2 separate regions of the Homo sapiens genome follow, and region 1 is linked to region 2. The links come from fine-mapping of genetic effects on plasma protein levels. A gene starts in region 2. The other region holds a variant in brackets. All regions are shown on one strand. Distances are between the middles of the regions. Region 1 has its middle 22 kb from the start of TREM1. Region 2 holds the start of TREM1 (triggering receptor expressed on myeloid cells 1).

Region 1 (5,385 bases), 22 kb before region 2:
CAATGAGAGAAAAAGAAAAAAACAAAGACTTGATAGAACAACTAGAAAATAATTAGCAATATGAGAGAAACAAAACCCCACATATCAATATTAACTTTAAATGTAAATGCATTAAATGCTCCACTTAAATGATATAGATTGGCTGAATTAATTTTTTTAAACATGATTCGACTATATGCTGCTTACAAGAAACTCACATTATCTATAAAGACATATACAGACTGAAAGCAAAGTGTGGAAAAAGATATTCCATGCAAATGGAAACCAAAAGTGATCAGGAGTAGCTATACTTATGTAGTATAAAACAGACTTTAAATGAAAAACAACATAAAAAGACAAATAAGGTTATTATATACTGATAAAAGGATTGATTCAGCAAGAGGATAAAACAATTCTGAATATATATGTACCCAACACTGGAGCACCTAGATTCATAAAACAAATAATATTAGACCTAAAGAGATAGACAGCAATACAATAATAATGAAGGCCTTCAACACCCCACTCACGGTATTAAACAGTTTATCTACAAAATGATCTAAAATCAACAAAGAAACATTGGACATAATTGGACGTTAGAACAAATCAACAGACATCTAGAGAACATTCTACCCAACAATTGCAGAATATACATTCTTTCAGCAGCCCTTGGAAACTTCTCCAAGATAGACCATATAGTAGGCTACAAAATAAGTCTCAACAAATTTTTAAAAATAGAAATCATATGAAATATCTTCTATGATCATCAAAATTTATTCCACATCACAGTGGAATAAGTTTTTTAAAATAGAAATTATATAAAGTATCTTCTAGGATTGCAGTGGAATAAAACTAGAAATCAATACCAAGAAGAACTTTGGAAACTATACAAATACATGGAAATTAACACACTCCCAAAAAAAATCACTGGACCAATGAAGAAATTAAGTTAGAAATTTAAAAACTTTTAGAAACAAGTGAAACCTGTTAGGTTTCTACCTAACAGAGATCTTGCCATTGCACTCCAGCCTGGGCAAAAAGAGCGAAACTCCATCTCAGGAAAAAAAAAAAAAAAAAAAAAAAAGAATAAAAGAAAAAATAAGAAAAGCTCAGGACCGGATAGATTCATAGCTGAATTCTACTAATCCTCCTCAAAAAGACATCTTCCAAAAAAATCAATGAGGAGAGAATTCTTCATAACTCATTCTACAAGGCCAATAGATCCCTGATACCAAAACCAGAAAAGGACACAACAAAGAAAAGAAGTCTACATACTAATATTCCTGATAAACATAGACACAAAATTTCTCAACAAAACACTAGCAAACAAAAACCAACAGTACATCAAAAAAAAGTACACGATGATTAAATGTGTTTTATACTAGGAATGCAAGGATGGTTCCACAATGCAAAGCAATAAATGTGATATAGCACATAAACAGAATTAAGGACAAAAAATGTATTATCATCTCAATAGACACAGAAAAAGCATTCAAAAATTCAGCATCCCTTCACAATTAAAAACCCTCAACAAACTAGGCATCAAAGGAACATACCTCAAAATAACAAGAGCCATATATGACAAACTCACAGCCAACAGACTGAATGGGGAAAAGTTGAAAGCATTTCCTCTAAGACCTGGAACAAGACAAGGATGCCTACTTTCACCAGTCCTGTTCAACATAGTACTGGAAGTCCTGACCAGAGCAATTGGGTAAGATAAAGAAATAAAAGACATCCAAATTGGAAAGGAGGGAGTCAAATTACTACTCTTAGCTGATCACATGATCTTATATCTGGAAAAGCCTAAAGACTTCACCACAAAACTCTCAGATTTGATAAATGAGTTTAGTAAAGTTGCAGGATGCAAAATAAATGTACAAAAATCAGTAGTGTTTCTATACACCAATAATGATATAGCTGAGAATAAAATAAAGAAGGCAATCCCATATACAATAGTTTCAAACAAATTTAAATATGTAGGAATAGATTTAACCAAGGAGGTGAAAGATCTACAAAACACTGATGAAAGAAATTATAGATAACAAAAACAAATGGAAAAACATTTCATGCTCATGGATCAAAAAAATTAGTATCATTACAATGACCATACTTCAGTTAATAGGATTACTATTAAAAATAAAAATAAATAGGCTGGGCGTGGTGGCTCATGCCTTTAATCCCGGTACTTTTGGAGACCGAGGTGGGTGGATCACCTGAGGTCATGAATTTGAGACCAGCCTGACCGATATGGTGAAACCCTGTCTCTACTAAAAATACAAAAATTAGCCAGGCATGGTGGCGTGTGCCTGTAATCCCAGCTACTTGGGAGGCTGAGACAGGGGAATTGCTTGAACCTGGGAGGCAGAGGTTGCAGTGAGCTGAGATCACGCCACTGCACTCCAATCTGGGTGACAGAGTGAGACTCCATCTCTAAATAAATAAATAAATAAATATATATATATATA[T/A]ATAAATAAATAAATAAAATGACCATACTGCCCAAAGCAGTCTACAGATTCAATGCAATCCTTATCAAAATATCAATATTATTTTTCACAGAATTAGAAAAACATAATCCTAAAATTCACATGGAAACCAAAAAGAACCCAAATAGCCAAAACAATTCTAAGCAAAAAGAACAAAGCTGGAGGCATGGTGTTACCTGACTTCCAATTATATTACAACACTAATATAACAATAGTAACCAAAACAGTTTGGCACTGGTATAAAAATAGACATGTAGATCAGTGGAACAGAATAGAGAACTTGGAAATAAAGCCACTTATTTGTGGCCAATTCATTTTTGACAAAGTTGACATGAACATACATTGGGGAAAGGACACCCTTCTAAATAAATGGTGCTGGGAAAATTGAATGTCCCTATGCAAAAGAATGAAACTGGTCCCCCATCTTTCACCATATACAAAAATAACTCAAGATGGATTAAAAACTTAAACATAAGACCTAACATTATAAAAATAACAGAAGAAAACCTAGGGAAAACTCTTCTGGACATTAGTTTAGGCAAAGAATTTATGACTAAGACCTCAAAAACAGAGACAACAAAAACAAAAATAGACAAATGAGACTTAAAAGCTTCTGCACAGAAAAAAAAAAGATGAACAACACTTTAGAATGGGAGAAAATATGTGCAAACTGTACCTCCAACAAGGGACTAATATCAAGAATATACAAGGAACTCAAGCAATTCAACAACCAAAAAAACCCATTAAACCCAAATAATCTCATTAAAATGTGGGCAAAGGACATCAACAGACATTTTATACCAATCAGAATGGCCATTGTTAAAAAGTCAGAAAAGAACAGATGTTGGCAAGGATGCAGATAAAATGGAACTCTTATACACCGCAGGTGGGAATGTAAGTTAGAACAGCTACTAACAAAAAATAAATTTCTCAAAGAATTAAAAATAGAACTATCATTTGATCCAGCAATCCCAACTGTATACCTAACAAAAGAAAAATAAATCAATATATCAAAAGGATACCTGCACTTGTGTGTTTATCTGCACTCTTCACAATAGCAAAGATATGGAATCAACCAAAGTGTCCATCAACAGATGGCTGGATAAATAAAGTATGATATATATACACAATGGAATACTATTCAGCCATAAAAATAATGAAATCATGTCTTTTGCAGCAACATGGATGGAACTGGAAGCCATTAGCTTAAGTGGAACAAGTCAGACACAGAAAGACAAATAGTGCATACTTTCACTCATAAGCTGAAGCTAAAATATTTGTACACATGAACATAGAGAGTAGAATAATAGACAATAGAGACTCAGAAGAGTGAGGGGATGGGGGTGGGGTGGATGATGATAAATTGCTTAATGGTATAATGTACATCATTCAGGTGATGGATACCCTAAAAACCCTTACTTGGACACTTTGCAATTCGTGCATGTAATGAAATTGCATTTGTATCCTGTGAATTTATACAAATAATTTCAACATCTAAACTAACCAAGGGCTGATTAAAAATCAACAAGCGGAAGGAAGGAAGCCAAATAGAAAATGGTTAGAAATAGGTTATACATTGCAGTAAAAAACTATATGCCCAAGAAACTCATAAACAGATGTTTGATCGTGTTAGTTAGAGAAATACTAATTTTAAAACATGGAACTGTCACTTTGAACTCATCTGAATGGTGAGCACATGGAAGGTGGATGACACTAGGAGTTGGTGAGAGTGGAGGAAAGGGGGATCCTTGAGCCCTGCTGGGGGGAATGCAACATGACCCAACATTCTGGAGAACAATCTGGAGCCTCTGTGGCATAAATATGTGGCTATCCCATGCTCAATGTTCCATCCCTGACTTATGCTCTGTTATGCATACTATTTTTTACGTCCTGTTTAGAAAATATTTGACTTCTCCAAGGTCATTTTTTCTACATTTTCTTCCAGAAACTATATTGTTTTCACCTTTTATATTTAGGTCTATGATGCATTTTCAATTAATTTCATGTGCAGTGTGAAAGAGTTAAAAACCTATTTTGTTTTCTGGGTGGGTATCCAACTGATCATTACCCTTTGATAGAAACAACATCTTTTCCACACTAAATTGCAGAGGCCCTTTAGTGGCAGTCAAGTGACTGTCTATGTGTGGGTATGTTCCTAAACCCTCTATTTTGTTCCTATTTTCTATTTGGCTTAATGCCAACTTAACATGTAGTTTAAAAAATTCTTATATGGCTCCTTCAAGAGCATGAATGGAAGTGTTTATTTTGAGGTATTTTGTTTGCTTGTTTTTCTGTTTGTATGCTTGTGTTGTTTTGTGGTAGTAAAGAGTTGAAGCAACTTAGGTTCCCATCACTAGGGGGAACAGAAAAATGAAATCCAATACTGCCCCTACATTATATGAAATCCTACCTAGCAGCCAAAAATTGAAGATTTAGATTTACATATAGCAACAACGGATAGTCTCAGAAGCACAATGCTATCTGAAAACATATAACTAGAGTTATAATTTTCAAAAAAAAAGCTTAAACCATGAGACAAAAATAAACACATGCTAAAAATTTTATTTAACTCATAATACATAATTTATTTGAGAAGATGTTATACCAGTTTAAAAATGGAAGTCAAAAGGCACAAATGTATATGAAGTAAAGGAATATTGAAATGAATTGTACGTGGAAGCATATCAGTTTGGGGTTTGCTTTTCCCTCTCAGCAGGGGAAGGAAGACAGGGCAGAGTTTGCTTGTCTATCAATAACCTGCCTTTGTGAAAGTTAGACTTCTCTCACAAAATGATTACCAGATAACATAAAGAAGAGAGTGCAATAGATAATGCAGAAGTTTCAGTTTAATTGCAGATTTTTTTCTACAACAGAGTGAAATGTGTAAAAAACAAAAGCACACAAAATCAATTCTATATAT
Region 2 (5,385 bases):
TGGGTTAACCATCTAGAATTGGGGATGCTCATCTGGCCTTGTCCAAGGGAGCCTTGCTGATGGGAGGCCAAGCAGAGCGGAAGTGAGAAGACCAAGGTCCGTGTTTTCAGCTGGACACACAGGGCTCTCTAAGTTTGCTGAGAGACTGTAGCTTACCCACTCAGGCCTGGGGTACCTTCCCCCATGGAGCACCAAATAACAGGCTAGACAGTGCTGCTGGGTCTACTGTGTGGGTCACGGTAACACTAGTACTGCTGTTATTAATACCACACACTTAGGTCCTTGCAGGCCTGGTGAAAAATGACAAGTGCTTACCCTTTCATGGAGCCCCCTGGCATGCCCACCCCAGGATAGGCCAACAGATCTGCCTGACCTTAGGAAGACTCAACTCAGGGACTCACAAGGAGTTTAAAGGTGAAATCAGTCTTGAAAGCCAGTTCTTCTGGGAGCAGACTCCAGTTTCTAGGGAAACCTCGGAAACAGACCTCTTGGGCAACTCCCACACACTCCAGTCAGGAATGTGCCTCCAAGAGACTGTTGACCAGAGGCTGAGTGTTGTCTGAAACCAAGCCTGGTTCCCTCATTTGTTCACTCACTCATCAGACTGGCTGGGAGACTTCTCTATCATAGGCACTGTGCTGGGCTCTTTGGAAGACACACAGACTCCATCCTCAAGTTGCCACCACTGAAGCCCTAACCTCTGAAGTTAATGTTACAGATAAATCTCTTTTATTTGCCAGCTCCCCAGGGAAGGTGGGAGTTACAGGTGACTGAGTTTGCAAACTTGCCTGTCTCTCACAGAAGGAAGGAGACAATAAGAAATGAAGGCTGCTGAGCTGTCTGTGCACAATTGCAAGAAGGGAATTCCTTTGAATATGTTAATTAAAAGGGTAGCAAATACTACCTATTAAGTATTATGTGCTAAGGGTTTTTAAAGACTATCTTATTTAATCTTTATAAAGTAAAAAGTTGACACCATTATTCTCCCCATTTTATAGATAAGGAAACTGAGGCACAGACAGATTAAGTGATTTGCCCAAAGTCTCACCATAGTTAAGTACTAGAGCCAGGATTCAAACCCAAGGACTCTGGTTCCACCTAAAGCACTGAGCTACATGGTCCAACACAGTCTGATAGGGATTAGAGAAGTCCTGGCCCAAGTGTGAATAAGTATCCAGTTGCAAGGAGCATTGAGGTTAACCCCTAACCTATCCCCACAGGGCACAATGAAATATATACCACTGGTTTTCTCTCACACAGGTACATAACCTTCAGCCCTCTGCCATCTCCCAGTTCTCCTTCAGAAAAACATGAATCAAACACAAGGAAATGCACTTGTCCATGAGGAGCTAACTCCCTTCTGCCCATCTAGATTATCACCCCAGCTCCAAGAAGACCCAGAGCAATGTCTGAGCACAGGCTCTTCAAGGCAGTTGTCCATGACTTTGCTCAAAGTAGAGAGCCCAGGAGGATACCTCTCCCTGATTTTTCATGCCTTCCCAAGGCAAGCCTCGCTTTTAACTCATATTGACACTTTCCTCCTGTTATTCATAAGGATTAGGAGGAGGAGTGAATAAAGCCCGCATGCTTCTGGTTTGGGTGCAGATGTGAGCTGTGCGGATCGTAAGAGGAGACACAAGAAAGAGCTGGGGCATGCGCCGGCTCTGCTGAGCCTCAGCAACTGTGCCCTCCAACCCCAGCGTGCCATGGAGAGCTGGGATGATCACCTCCACCAAAATGAGCACCAGCCTCTTCTGGTCACGTCTGTGTCCTCAGCAGTAGTATATTTGCTGTCCCATAGTAGACCCCTGGGAAATATTTGTTAAATCAATTCTGTCTTTTGGGTTTAACAGATTGTCAACATCAAACACATCATGATGGAATATAAGAAAAAAATTTCAACATCAAATAAACTTATTGTAGATCATGCCATGATGAGATCTACTCTATCATTATTCCCATACTAGGCTTTGCATGTCTCTAACAACATCGACATGCACAGACATCTTTTTTCCCTGACTCTCTCCTTCTTTTACTTTTGTGTGCAGACACTGCATGTTCTCCCAATTCTGGGTAGAGCAGCACGGTCTGCCATAACTACTGGTTGGCTCTATCTTGGATGGCCCTGTGCTCTGAAGCTTCAACAGAAAAGGGCTCCCCGAGATCCTGGACCAAACGCCTCCCCTGCTCAGTCCTCTTCCTTGTCTTACCTGAGACAAAGAGCATCCACAGCAGCCCCCAGAGCCTGGTCTTCCTCATCCTTCCTGTGCACCAGCTCCAACTGCTGCTGAGGGCTCCCGGGACAGCTACAAGGCACCACAATGACCTAGAGGCTTCGGAAAGTTGCACAACAGGATATGAGGCCATTCCTGGGAGTCACTGAGTTTGGGTTCTGTTTCATCACCAGTTGCTCTGACTCCTGACATCAACACAATAATACAGAGACCAAGACTCACTTCTCAGTTAAGTTTCTTTGAACTCCAGTTTTCCTTTCTGTGGTAATAATGACAATTACCTTTCAACCTTACAAAATCTAAGGGAGAATGATACTTGAATGTAAATCAAAGTAAGGCATTCATATTAGGAAGGGGAACAGAGGGCCCTTTGCTCTCCAGAGGCCCCCTCTCCATTCACATCCAGTTTAGTGTAGTGAAGAGAGTCAGGCCCACATAGGGAGAGGCTGCGACAATCGTATCTCATCTTCAGGGTTTTTGTGAGAACATGTTGCTTCATCCTGCCCTGCTCAGCCCCGTGGGTTCTCTTGGCTTCTGGTGACCTGGGGTGCACCTCCTCTTCATCACCAGGAGGGCCACACCCTGCATTTGTCCTTCAGCATTGCCACAGACATGGCCTGGGAGCTCACGGGGGTGTAGGGACCCCAGAAACAATTTGAGAGGACACTGCCACCACCCAACAAGAACAGACTTAGATTTAAAAAGGAAACTTGGTTCAAGACGCTGAAGCAAGAAGAAAAAATCCAGCAGGTTTTGTACTAGAAGCAAGAAAAGACAGATTTGACAGTGTGAAAATCAAATCAATAATGGAGAGGATTCACTTCAGAAATATTCCCAAATGTGAAATGAATAAAGACATTTAGAAGAGCTCAGAAATTTAAGGGAGGACAAATCACAGAATTCCAATCTACAAATCAGAGATGTCCTTAAAGCATAAAATGGAATGGTGGATCACAAGCAAGATTAAAAATTTTATCTTAAAAAATATGCTTTCCAGGTCTGAGAAGAAATCTAAAATTGGAGGTTGAGAGTTCAACATGGGCAAGGAAAAAATTCACAAAGTGAGACCTAGAATAGGAAGTTTCCAGGTGAAAATTTTTAAATTTAAATAAAAAGATTCCTACTGCTAAATAAACAAAAAAATAACTTGGTTTCTTCAAAGGAATTGAAATAATCAGGACTCAGATTTCTTCTCTGAGTAACAAATACCATGAGAGAGTGGGATGAGGTATAAAGAACATTATGACCCTAATATTTTACACCCAAATTGATTGCTACTCAAGTATAGGAACAGCTAAAAGGTACTATCATGTCTGTAAATTAAAACAAACAACAACCAAAAAAATTTTCAAGGCTAACTTTAATTTTTTTTATTAAAGCTGTTCAATGCAGCAATTTATAAAATATAGAAAATAATACATAAACTTAAATCATGTTATTACACTTTATAGAGATCATTTGTAGTGGAGATTTTACTATGTTTATTTTTTGTTCTACAAATAATGTCGGAAAACAGGCTTCAAACATGCTTGAACTGAAATCTGCTGGCCCCTCCTTTTGCTGTACTCAAGCAGTCCCTAAAGAGGAAAAATAGACAGAAAGCTCTTGACATTTTCTGACTCAGAGAGGAGCCTACGTGACTTCTGTGGCGATGAGTCAAATTAATAAAGTTTATTTCAGTGAATAAATCCCCTCCTTACAACAAAATTAATATTCCACACTTAAATAATAGCTATTTCACATACTTTCTACATTTTTGTGTCTTCATATACTTTGTGTGGAGGATTAAGCTCCTGGAAGATTAAGAGGGAGCTTTGAACTAAACAGTCCAAGAAGAATTTTTAATTAGACTTGAATATCACTGGAGGCTGATTGCTCCTTCACATTTTCCTAACTACGGACAGCACCTGCATTTAAATTAGAATGAAGTAGAATGAGGTCTTTCTCCACTTGTCTGATCTATTTGTGTACTTGAGGTCAACAGTGCAAATAGTCACGTGTCACTTAATGACAGATACATTCTGAGAAATGTGTTGCTAGGTGATTTTGTGTTGCAGGAACATCATGGAGTGCACTTACACGAACTTAACATGGCACAGCCTACTGTACACCTAGGCTGTATGGTATAGCCTATTAATATTAGGAAGGGGAACAGAGGGCCCTTTGCTCTCCGGAGGCCCCCTCTCCATTCACATCCAGTTTAGACAAATACCTTTCAACCTCACAAAATCTAAGGGAGAATGATACTTGAACATAAATCAAAGTAAAGCATATTCCTAGGCTGCAAGCCTGCACAGTATGTTACAGTCCTCAATACTGTAGGCATTTGTAACACAATAGTAAGTATTTGTGTATCTAAACATAGAAGAGGCATAGTAACAATACGGTATTATGACATTATAATCTTATGGGACCTCCACCATATATGCAGTCTGTCATGGACCAAAACTTCCTTGTGCAGCACATGGCAGCATTCTCTAATCCTTACCACTTTATTTTTCTGAGGAGTTTAATGACCCGATCAGTAACTTCTTCAGGCTGAATAGGCAGGACGATATTCCTGCCTAACTATTAGGGTCTCTTTAAATTCTCAAGCTACTGCTCCCAACAAGATATTATTTCTTAAGGCTTCTCATAGAAGAGCACTGTCATTTGTGACCTATGGTTCCTGTTAATTTTACTAAGGCTGGGTCACATGTCCCATTTCCATGCTTGCTCATAGGGTGGCCTCTAGCACTAGGAAGATTTAGTCTTTGGGTACCATGAACCTTTCCATATTTGCCAAACTTCATCTTCAGAGCTATTATGAAATCAATACAGTTTCAACATTGATACAATTAATGAAATAATACCAATATTATTCTGTTTTGTTTTGTCTTCAATAAGTCACTGCCCCAAGTCAGTAGGTCTCGATCTTCACTATGGGGTAAATTAGCAGTTTCTTCCTTAATAAAGATTGGTTAATCTAACCTAGCTAGAATATATGTGTAACATTTTTTAACAATGAGATTGCATATAAAATATCTTCTTTTCTGGCTCAGAGGAGGGGCCCACATGGAACTGGAACACAGATCTCTGAGGATAGTGTGACCCTGGTGCTGATATCTCTGAGGAGGCCCAATGAGACTACTTCTGAGAGTGGGGAAAACTG

What was found. PIP is the posterior inclusion probability: the model's chance that the variant is causal. Protein levels are from the aptamer-based SomaScan assay of Sun 2018.
Region 1: its variant is fine-mapped to the plasma level of the TREM1 protein (Sun 2018, PIP 0.95).

Annotation. Positions count from the first base shown.
Region 1 is chr6:41,262,092-41,267,476 of GRCh38, forward strand. It overlaps a transcript of TREM1 not described here. Among named protein-coding and RNA genes, the nearest start is that of TREM1, 22 kb to the right of the region's middle. The variant T/A (reference allele first, on the strand shown) is at 2,448.
Region 2 is chr6:41,284,397-41,289,781 of GRCh38, forward strand. It overlaps TREM1 (triggering receptor expressed on myeloid cells 1), which reads right to left and starts at 2,286. Exons shown (of 4, transcript NM_018643.5): 1 at 2,211-2,286. The coding sequence starts at 2,259. RefSeq lists a silencer at 4,271-4,360.